2 separate regions of the Homo sapiens genome follow, and region 2 is linked to region 1. The links come from fine-mapping of genetic effects on gene expression. Tissue or cell type: prefrontal cortex. Region 1 holds a variant in brackets; the other region holds the start of a gene. All regions are shown on one strand. Distances are between the middles of the regions. Region 1 holds the start of LOC101927531 (a long non-coding RNA gene). Region 2 holds the start of LINC02347 (long intergenic non-protein coding RNA 2347).

What was found. PIP is the estimated chance that this variant, and not a neighbour inherited with it, causes the effect.
Region 2: it holds the start of LINC02347, and the variant in region 1 is the best candidate, but not a certain one, in a credible set for the expression of LINC02347 in prefrontal cortex (BrainSeq, PIP 0.54).

The regions. Positions count from the first base shown.
Region 1 is chr12:126,357,230-126,362,612 of GRCh38, forward strand. It overlaps LOC105379613 (a long non-coding RNA gene), which reads left to right. Exons shown (of 3, transcript XR_001749379.1): 3 at 1-498. It overlaps LOC101927531 (a long non-coding RNA gene), which reads left to right and starts at 790. Exons shown (of 3, transcript NR_187677.1): 1 at 790-908; 2 at 997-2,417; 3 at 2,872-3,836. The variant A/G (reference allele first, on the strand shown) is at 3,275.
Region 2 is chr12:126,439,681-126,445,063 of GRCh38, forward strand. LINC02347 (long intergenic non-protein coding RNA 2347) reads left to right here and starts at 2,801. Exons shown (of 12, transcript NR_130748.1): 1 at 2,801-2,908; 2 at 3,286-3,347; 3 at 5,205-5,373. The region is part of intron 2 of LINC02825 (long intergenic non-protein coding RNA 2825); the gene reads right to left.

The DNA.
Region 1 (5,383 bases):
TTCCCCTTAAACCAAGCTCTGACCAGTAGGCTCAGAGGCAAATAGATCAGGGAAATGTACCGCCCAGCCTTAGAAGAAGATGGTGGCACTGATGTGTCAAGAGGAAATATAGCACCTATATATATGTACCAAGGGAAGAGGGGGGGAAGTGTTCAAAATTACATTTCGTTCATTCATCCATTCAAAAAATACTTAACAATCACCTGCTTTATAGCAGTCACTGTCTTGCACCGGGATATAACACGGTACAAACTAGGTGCGATCTTTGCGATTATTAGGTTTATTGGTAGCAGTTGTTGCTGTTACATCTCACTGCTCTCATTGCAAATGTTGATGGTGGCTTTTACGTCTGTGAAAATAAAAAGCATGACCTTTTGATAGTTGTTTGCTGTATGGAAGCCTATTTTACTATGTTTGCATGCAAACTTCTATCTGACCTTAAGCTAATGGGAGCTTGTAAAGAGGTGGAATCGAATGTAAAGTTTGAAAAGACAAGAAAAGAGAAAAGGAAAGGGAAGGGATGGGGAGGGGAGAGAAAGAGAGGGGAGGGAGTCGGAAGAGAGGGGAGGGAGGGGAGGAGAGGGGAGGCAAGAAGGAAGGGGAGGGGAGGGAAAGGGAAGAGAGGGGAGGGAGGGGATAGGGGAGGGACGGGAGGAGAGGGGAGGGGAAGGGAAGAGAGGGGAGGGGAAGAGAGGGGAGGGAGGGAAAGAGAGGGGAGGGGAGGGGAAGAGAGGGAAGAGGAGGGGAGGGGAAGAGAGGGAAGGGAGGGGAGAAACAACAACCATATGTCTTTATTTCCTGTTAGCTCCATTTCTGGCCTTTGGTCTCTTTCTCGGAAAGCAGGCCTCAGTGGCCTCAGTTTCTTCCCAGAACCTGCAATGCCCCACCAAGGTGACAAGAAGTGCAAGGTAGTTAGCTCTCCTTCAGTGCTTATGAGTTGAAGGTGATAACATCTGAAGACCGGTTGTCACATTTGAATTTTTCTTTTTATTTCAGGAGTCGGTTTTCACTGCCAACCAAAGAGGTGACCCCCGCAAAGCAACCATGTTGGGACAGTCCATTTGCTGCGTTTTGATTATTTGCTAAGAGCAAATACCTTTTCTGTTTGGGTTTTGCTTTTAGAAAAAAAATGTGGCAGATGGTGGTGGCTTTCCCCGTCATTGAAAGAAGAAAGGTAGTAACTCTACTGGTGCACTCCTCTGAGTTGTGCTAACAAAGAAGAATGCTGAAAGAAAAGGGAAATGAACACCATTTTCAGGCAGCTTCTCCAAGTTTTTTTGACAGTGTTATAATTTTCCTTTAGCGACTGTTGAAGCAAATATCTGTATTTATGTTCAGATTAAACCGAGAGAGCAAAGACTGCTAAAGCCAGTAATTTCTGGGCTGCAAATGCAGGATAGCTCCAGTGAATTTCAGATTCTTAAAGGTTTTTGCTGTAGCGAATTCATGACACAAAGCATTTGGAGGGAAACCTATTAGAGAAGAAACACATCCTAAATGAGAATTACTGAGGACGGGAGGCTCTTGTCATTTATTGGATTAGTTATAGCACTTTACACAAGCCTGTAATATTTGTTCTGCTGCTGTGGTGTGACTGGTAAAATGAAAAGGTATGTCAAGGGAGTGCTTGACTGACGTTCTTATTTCTTCCGTCTTCTTATATTGCTGGGAGGATTCTACCACTGCAGGGCTAGAAATTAATATCACACTCATTTGATAGGAAGAGCAAAAGCAAGGTTATGAGTCAGAGACATTTTGGTCCCAGAACAATAACTCTATTGATTGAGTCAAATATGTTTAACTCCAACAGCAAGACCTTCCATCTGCGTGAAATAATCATGTCCGTTAATTGTAAACAGGAGCATCTTTGAAAGCTGAGCTAGAGGCGGAGCAACTGGTAAACCAGATGTCCCAAATTTCTAGGTTTGTACATTGTAATTGTTCTAGACTTGTGTGTGGATATTGGTAAAATGACATAGTCAGATATCTCACAGATTTTGTGAGATATGTCCAAAGTTCCCAAGTTAATTTATTACTAAAGTTAGAATTTCACTTACTGTGAGATTGGAATGCCAGCCAGCTACTGAACCTTATGTGTGCCTAGGGGCCATTTTGAGACAATTTGCTGAATATTAAAAGTACAACCAATAATGTTTCTCTCCACATCCACAATAGCGCTTAGAGGAAGCATCTGGGATTGAGCCATCTCACATCTGTCTAATCACATTCATTCAAATGTGATGGGCCCAACTGGCCTACGTACATGGCTGCATATCACCATGGGTGGAAATTAAATCAGAATTTGGCTCAGGAGAGAGATGAAGAGAAAATGCACGTAGATAATTGGCTCAGATAACATTCTGTTTCTGGAAGTCACAAAGAGTGGAAATTGGAATATGTAAATTAAAGAAAAACAGGTAAGAATTCACATGAACCCCAACCACACACCCTGTGTATGTTCTCATTCTCATTCTCTCTATGGTGCCTGTGAGCAGTTGGAGTTTGAATTTTTCAGTCAGTAAGGTTTGCTGTTTATTCGAGGGCTGCTCCTAAAAAATAATCAGGTCTAGTCAAGAATATAGAAAAGTGAAATTATGCATATTTTCCTGGGGAATATAATAGATGTTCTCATAGTCTTACAATGTAAAAAAAATGAAGGTAAGACTCTAGCTCCCTTTCTTCTATCTTTCTGGCCTCATTTTAGGCTAATATTTTCTTTTGCAACCATATACCAAATTATTACATATGGAAGCTGTGAAACTGAAGGTTCTGTAAAACTTTAAAGCCAGAGAACTTATGACTCCTCCATATAGGAAGAGAAATGGGAGAATATTAGGCTGTTTTTAATACTGGGCATCTGGTATTTTTCAGTCCTTAAGATCAAGTCCGCAATGGAAGAAGAGCATTCATCTGGTACAGGTTGATGATTGTGTAAGCCCAAGGAGTGATGTCAACACTGGGGTTCACCTGAGAACATGGACATGGTTGATGAGGGTTTAGGAGATGCTCATACGAAGTCTTCATATGTTCCCTGGATCCCAGCTCTGCCTTCCCACCAGAGAGGATGTAATTCAGCCGAGATGCCCAGAGTCAGCTCTCTGCTCATATCTGTTCCGCACTGAAGCCAATCATCTGAGAAACCTAAGAAGTGTTTAATGTAGTTAGGAAAGTGAGGGATGAAGACCATAAATTCCTTTTCATGTAGCAGAGTATATATGTGATACTCATTCTGTGGTATTTGGGGCATAAACAAGAGTCGATGAAGGAATGTGAA[A/G]GTACTCGAAATCCTGACTTTTATCTCTATAAAAATGGCATAGGGATGAAACACACTTGGTTGTTATGACTGTACTCTTTTCAGATTTACTACTTGCCTTTCTACTGATTTTTCTGTGCCACAGGTCTTGACTCCTGTAGGCTAAATTTCTCAGCCTCTTCTGCTCACTGATATATGGGAAGGTTTGGCCAAAGGTGGGTGACTGGTGGGGAGAAGGATGAGGGAATTCAGGGGATTGCTGAGCCCATTCTCTAGACAGTGCTGCTGGCACTGGCTCTGTCTTCTCCGTTTCCATCTCGCATCAGACGGTTCTTCCCTCTATGGGCCTAGTCCTACCTAGACACTTTCCAGTTGGATTCCAGTTCTGGGGATGCTCCCTCCTGCAGGGATCTAAGTCCTTCCCATTGTCTTCGGCTCCTGGGCTCAGCTAGAACCATCTTTTCCCATTGTCCCTGTGGTGCTAGGGCTTTCAGTGGTTATTAACGTCTGTGTTGTATCATCTTGCCTGAATTTCAGCTCTCTGTAACCAGTTCCCCAAATAAAATTCCCCCCATTTACCTACCTTCTGTGAGTCTGTTTGCCTGACATGACCGTATTAAGTATACCCGATATATTAGTGAGCTTCGGATGATATCACAATGTGCCGTAGACTGGGTGGCATAAAAAACAAAGGAATGTATTTCTCATTGTTCTGGAGCTGGGAAGTCCAAGATAAAGGTGCTAGCCAATTCTATTTCTGATGAGGGCTCTCTTCCTGGCTTGTGGATGGCCACCTTGTCACTCTATTCACACACGGTGAAGAGAGATAGAGAGCAAGCTTTCTGCTGTTGCTTCTTATAAGGGCACTAATCTCCTCATCATGGCCCCAACCTCTTGACCTCATCCAAACCTAATTCCCTCTCAAAGGCCCCATCTCCAGATATGTTGCAGCATAGGATGGTCCACAAACACATGTGGGACTTAGCGCCATCGCTTCACTGAGCATGAGCTCGGGAGCTCATGAGGGCTGTAGTGCCCAGACAGTGGTCCCCAGACTCCAGTGATTTAGGTAATCCCACCATATTTTTTTTATCATGCCACTCAAGAGTTTATTCATAACTGTGAACTTCCTATCCTGTTGTTAATGTTTTATTCCTGAAGTGAACTCAATATTTTTTCTTAAAAATAATTTCCGTTTCAATTTTTAGATGTTTTTGAAGTAGAAGAACACAGACAAGTTGCACAGCTTACATTTTACAAATTCCACATATCCAGAACGAGCAACAGAACATTACCATGCACCCCTTCCCAGTCACCAATTCCCCTCCAAGAGTAACATCTACACTGATTCTTTGCTTACAATCAAATAGAAGAAAGAGGAAATGCTATGAAGGGGTTCCTCATCAAAGAGGCTGTCCAAATGACTACTAATCACATGATACGTTCTCAACCTTCACCAAGGAAATTCAATACAATATCTCTATAGACTCACCACAATGACTAACACGAAAAAGACAAATATGCAAAATGCTGGCAACCAAAGTTTCCTTATATTGCTGTACCCATACCCTGTAGTCGGTACATCACTTTAGTAAACTCTTTGGAAATATCTATCAATGCTTGCACATATGCATATCCTATGACCCAGCAACTCCACTCCAAGGTACACATACAACCTAGAAGTACATGCAATTTATGATCTAGCATGCCCACAGTAGCTCTACATGTAAAGAAAAGAAAGCAGCATGAACAATAGAATAAATACAATGTAATATACTTACATAATGGAAGAATACACAATAATGAGATTTAAAGATATCTAACTATACATAATAATGGCAGTATATCATAAATATAATATTCAACGCAAAAAGCAGTCTTGAGACTATGTGCTTTTGACTGCATATAAATAAATATATTTAAAAAGAAATTTTCTACTGCTACCAGAAATGGAAAATCAGAATCACTTAAAAAGCAAACCTCCCTCCAAATTATTAAATCCCCCCAAATAATATTAAATCCTACCTATATTTGGTTGCCTACCAAATTTCCTTACCTAAGACCTCTTTGTTAAAAAGATTTTCTAGCGTAAGAGAGGTTTAATGAATATACCAGCGTTAAAATGAGTCT
Region 2 (5,383 bases), 82 kb after region 1:
AAGAGTAGCCTGAAACCCAGGACCCTGCATATAAAACCCCCTGAACTTTGGCTATTGAAAACCAATGTGATTTTAAAAGCAATGACATGTAGGCCAAGAAAATATACCTATAGGCTGCATTCAGCCTTGAGTCCGCCAATTTACACCTTCTACAATGTTCTCATTGAGGAACCCCAGTGGGTACCATGACTCCCTCCTTCTAAGCTGTCTTTCCTAGGTTTCATCTTCCCACATATGGGCAATGTTAGAGGCACTTCTGCCTCATTTTATAAAATTTGGCCATTTTCTACCAGGCCTTAAAGAGAAGAAGAGATGGAGTTAAGTGAGAAAAATATGGCTATGTGGGGAGTAAAGTGAATATTCCAAAAGTAAGTATCCTCTGGGATTGAAGAACGAACGAAGTGGACAATTATTCAAGTGACTCTTCTGTCTAAACTGGCCTTGGGTAAGAAAATATGCCCGTAGGCTGCTCTGTATTTTTCTACTCTGGGTGGCCTAGCAGCCTACCTGGCCCAGGTGATGGCTTTCAGGGACCACACTTTAGCTGGGCAATGCACAGCTTTTCCGGGTTGTTATGTACAATTTCAGACTAACCCTCAAGGTCTACCCAGGATGATTAATCTTGAAATAATTTCAGATGCCATTTATTATGGCTTGGAGCTTAGGAATATCTTCAGACCCATTGATGGGAACACTGACTCCTGAGCACAGTCATTTGAGGTGTCTTTAAACAGAAAATTTCAATGTTATCTCAGTTGGGACACACTTTTTCAAAAGCACGATCGGTTGCCAAGAATAACAGGACTTCATATTGCAGAGTGAATTCAGAGGATCAAACTCCAGGAGCCTTCGGATGTCTGATTATTGGATCATCCTGTCTGGCTGCATAAGATGCATCCACGATATTTACTTGGTGCCCACAATATTCCAGGATTGTCCTAGTTGCTTATACGTATTTGTTCTGATTTTATTGGTGTGTAAAGGAGCCCTTGCCATCTTTTCTTTTTTTTTCTTTCTTTCTTTTTTTTTTTTTTTGAGACGGAGTCTTGCTCTGTCACCCAGGCTGGAGTGCAGTGGCGCAATGTCGGCTCACTGAAAGCTCCGCCTCCCGGGTTCACGCCATTCTCCTGCCTCAGCCTCCCGAGTAGCTGGGACTACAGGTGCACGCCACCACGCCTGGCTAATTTTTTATATTTTTAGTAGAGACGGGGTTTCACCGTGTTAGCCAGGATGGTCTAGATCTCCCGACCTTGTGATCCGCCCGCCTCGGCCCTTGCCATCTTTCTACTTGAAAATGAGATTGAAAGTTGTTTCAGCTCAGATCTGAACTAAACACTTTTTATGAACCAAAAGTTCCCACCCGCGGGGCTTAAGAGTTGCATTAGTGCCAAATAATTGACTTAATTATTTTTAGCTTAATGAAAAATGTCTCATTTTCTACTTGATTGATTGATTCTGTATCCTTTTAAAAATTTTTTTGGTATGACACAACTGTCTGAACTATGTCTAGCTCTGTTTATATTCTGACTTGGAGGAATTCTGGGAGCCAAATCATAGCTAAACGTGTGAATCTTCACTAATCGAAATGGGTGGAATTTTCTGTAAAGATGCAAACTGGCTTGACTGTGTCCAGTTATTGCTCCTGAATCCTAACTGCAGTGAATGGAGGGAGGGGCAGTGTACTACGCGAGAGGGTGGGTCCTGAAAACTAGACATCCCTGGGTGCTAGCCCTGTGTTGAACCTCTTTCTCGTGCAGATTTGGACAAATATTTATTCTGCACTTTAGTTTCCTTATCTGTAAAATGAATATGATAAGAATTATGTTTACTTACAATATAAACCTCTTCAATGAGTAGAAGCAGTGAGAGACATAGTATAAGTAATCAATACACGCTAAATGTCTCAGAAGTCATCTTAGAACATTAGTAGAATGTATTTTTTATAGTTTGATTTTAAATTCACAAATAGTAACTGTATATATTTATAGAACAAAATGTGATGTTTTGATACCTGTATACATGGCGGAATGATCCAATTAGGCAACTTAGTATATCATCACCTCAAATATGTATCATTTCTTTGTTATATGAACATTACGTGTTTTTGGACTAAGTGAAACAGAGACTGTTTGGAAAGCCATAGAAAGTAGCCACCCTCTTTTTATCCTCACACCAAAGAAAAGCTGACCACTTGCTAACCAGCCCACTTATTTCACCTTAAAGTAAATTGAATCTGGAACCCTGGATCATTCTATGAAATTTTCCAAAAAGCTAGTCAGAGGCCGGGCACCGTGGGTCACACCTGTAATCCCAGCACTTTGGGAGGCTGAGGCACGCGGATCACCTGAGGTCAGGAGTTCGAGACCAGCCTGGCCAACATGGTGAAACCCTGTCTCTACTAAAAATACAAAAATGAGCCAGGCTTGGTGGCGGGTGCCTGTAATCCCAGCTACTCAGGAGGCTGAGGCAGAATAGCTTGGTCCCGGGAGGCAGAGGTTGCAGTGAGCTGAGATCCCGTCATTGCACTCCAGCCTGGGTGACGAGAGTGAAACTCCATCTCAAAATAATAATAATAATAATAATAATAATAATTAAAATCTAGTGAGAAAGCAAAGTAAACTCAAGGAAGTCCTGGCTTTGCGATTTTGTTTTGTTATTCCTAAGCACTGCCTCACCTGCTCTAGCGTGGGAGCTGAGTCGTCAAGGGGAAAGACAATGAAATTGCTCTAAGTTATCATCTCTCCAGGCATTGTTCTGTAATAACTGTCACTGTTAACAGAAGAGGCCTCCCTCCTGCAGTGGGAATACCAGGGGTGGGCACTGTCAAGAGACCCAGCTTTGACTTCAAATGCCACCCAGAGGGACAACTGCTCACTTTCAGAGCAGGAGCAGGAGGCCAGAGGAGAGTGTGAGTCTAACATCTGCACAGTGAGAAGTCCAGGAGAAGCAAAAATGAGATCCAGGCTGGAGCGGCTGTGCCAGAGTAACTGTTCCAGCGGGTGTGGGGGAGGGTCCCCCAAAAAGACTTACCTGGACTGAATGGGAAATAATAGAAAATAGGAGCAAGAGACTGTCACTTTATAATAGGTTCTGTTATGACCTCCTACAACAATATGTTAGAAATTATGATTTCTAATATGTCTATGATACAGATAGACATATAGTTAGAAAACTAAATAAAGAGACAGATTTTGAGCTAGGTATACTTACAGATACAGACATTGATATCATAGATAAACATGTTCTTTATTTTTATATTGTCAATGTTTGTGTTGCTGGAAAAAGGGGTCCCTATGATCCAGACCTCAAGAGAGGGTTCCTGGACCTCCCACAGAAAGGGATTCAAGGTGAGTTGTAGAGTGTAGTGAGAAGAGATCATTTATTGAAAATTCTTCAGATTCAGAGTAGGGTGTCCTCAGAAAGCAAGAGGAGGAATGCCCTGTCTTTGTTTTAAACTCTTCTTACACAGGGGTCTCATCTACATAAAAGCTAAGCTATCTCTGTGTGTGGGTGGGCTGACAATGTGACAAGATGTAGTACTTTGGCCATTTAAAGAAAGTTATCCTTGGCATTTTAGTTTATAAGTACATGAAAGCATGATTGTACATTTCTTAAAAGCATATATTGTTATGTGATATTGGGACATGTGGACTTTCTGCTGTTGTAGGAGTTTGTCCTTGCAGGCATTGCCAAGCGGTTTCCTCTGCAGTAAACATCTTATGACCACGGGTCATAACTGGCAAGGAATGTGTGTTGCGAGTTTAAAGATGGAGTTAATTTTAAAATGGTGACACCTGGCTCTCTAGGCGCCTGCTTTTCTAACTTTTCTAGGTATAAACCTAATCTTCCTTGCTAGATCACAACCTCCAATGATCTATTTTTCATCTTCAGTTGTCCCAAGCACTAGCTTGTTCTGCGAGCGTCTCGTGGTCATGGAAAACTGATAAAGCACAGCATGAGAGGCTCAATGGATAAGAAATTATAAAGAATCACTAAATTTGCATAGGTGTTTTGATTGTGACCTACCGAGGAAGGAAGTGGAGAGGGTGTGTGGGAGGGAGGACAGCAGATGTGTAGACACGGCTTCATTTGCCTCCCACCGGGAATTTTGCCCGAGACTTATGGAGAGAATGGCCATTGGCAGAGACTGAAAGAGTTGATTTGATTCTCTGAGGCCTGATGCACTTGGTGAATTGTTTTGGGGTCTCTGTGGCATTAGGATAGGGGCTTTTTTTCTTTTTGTTTGTTTTGTTTTGTTTTTTTGGTCAAATGTCCTGTGTTTCAGGTTTCAACCAAGACTTTGGGAAACCAGGACTACTTGAAACCCTGATGGACTGCAGTGTTCAAAGAAGGAGGGAACAAAACCCTCTGGAAACCTCTGGAATTAGTGGCTGGGAAATAGCCCTTGGTTACTCTATGGACAGCAGATGTCCCAGACAGAGCCAGAGCCTAAGAACATGGGAGGTTTTTTCGTTGTGGTTTTTGTTTCTGTTTTGAGACAGAGTCTCGCTCTGTCACCCAGGCTGGAGCACAATGGCATGATCTGGGCTCACTGCAACCGCTACCTCCTAGGTTTCAGCGATTCTCATGCCTCAGACTCCCGAGTAGGTGAGATTATAGGCGCCCACCATCACGCCTGGTTAATTTTTATTTTTTATAAAAATGGGGTTTCACCATGTTGGCTAGGCTGGTCTCAAACCCCTGACCTCCAGTGATCCACCTGCCTTGGCCTCCGAAAGTGCTGGGATTACAGAGCCGCTGTGCCTGGCTAACATGGGAGGTTTTTAAATATCTGTGTTTCCAGAATGAACCGGTGAGTCTTTGAAGTCCTTGTATGAACAGGACTGGGCACAAGTCAACCAGAATAATTTGCAGACATGCAAGCTGTTTGTATCCAGCGGATCAATAGCAACCTGTTTTAGCTTTCCATCTTTCTTTAAGGAAATGTCCTATCTCCAATACTACTGTGAAATTCTAGAGCATAAGAAGAGAATAAAGTCTTGATGTACGGTTTGGTTGGTAGGCAGAGCTCCACCCCACCATCTCCTTGGTGACAGTGCCCCACTCGTGAGAAGGGTACTGTTTCTTCCCTGGTGTTAGTGTTACCTAGTATAATGCCTATGTGACATAGCTGAATTTCTACCCTATCCTAACTCTGCTACTCTTTAAGGATGCCTGCAATAAAAAGTTCCCTTTTTAACCAGACCAGCTGAAACTGATTAGAGCCAAGATAGCCAACCAAATGACTTCAGGAAGACCTCAGGCTTCATTATCATCTCATTTCCATGCTAAAAAAACCCAGCTCCCTAGAACAATGGGAAATATTGGGCACTTCATCAGGCGAGTTCAGGTGCATTTCTAGAGATTGTCCAGGTGAGTCAAA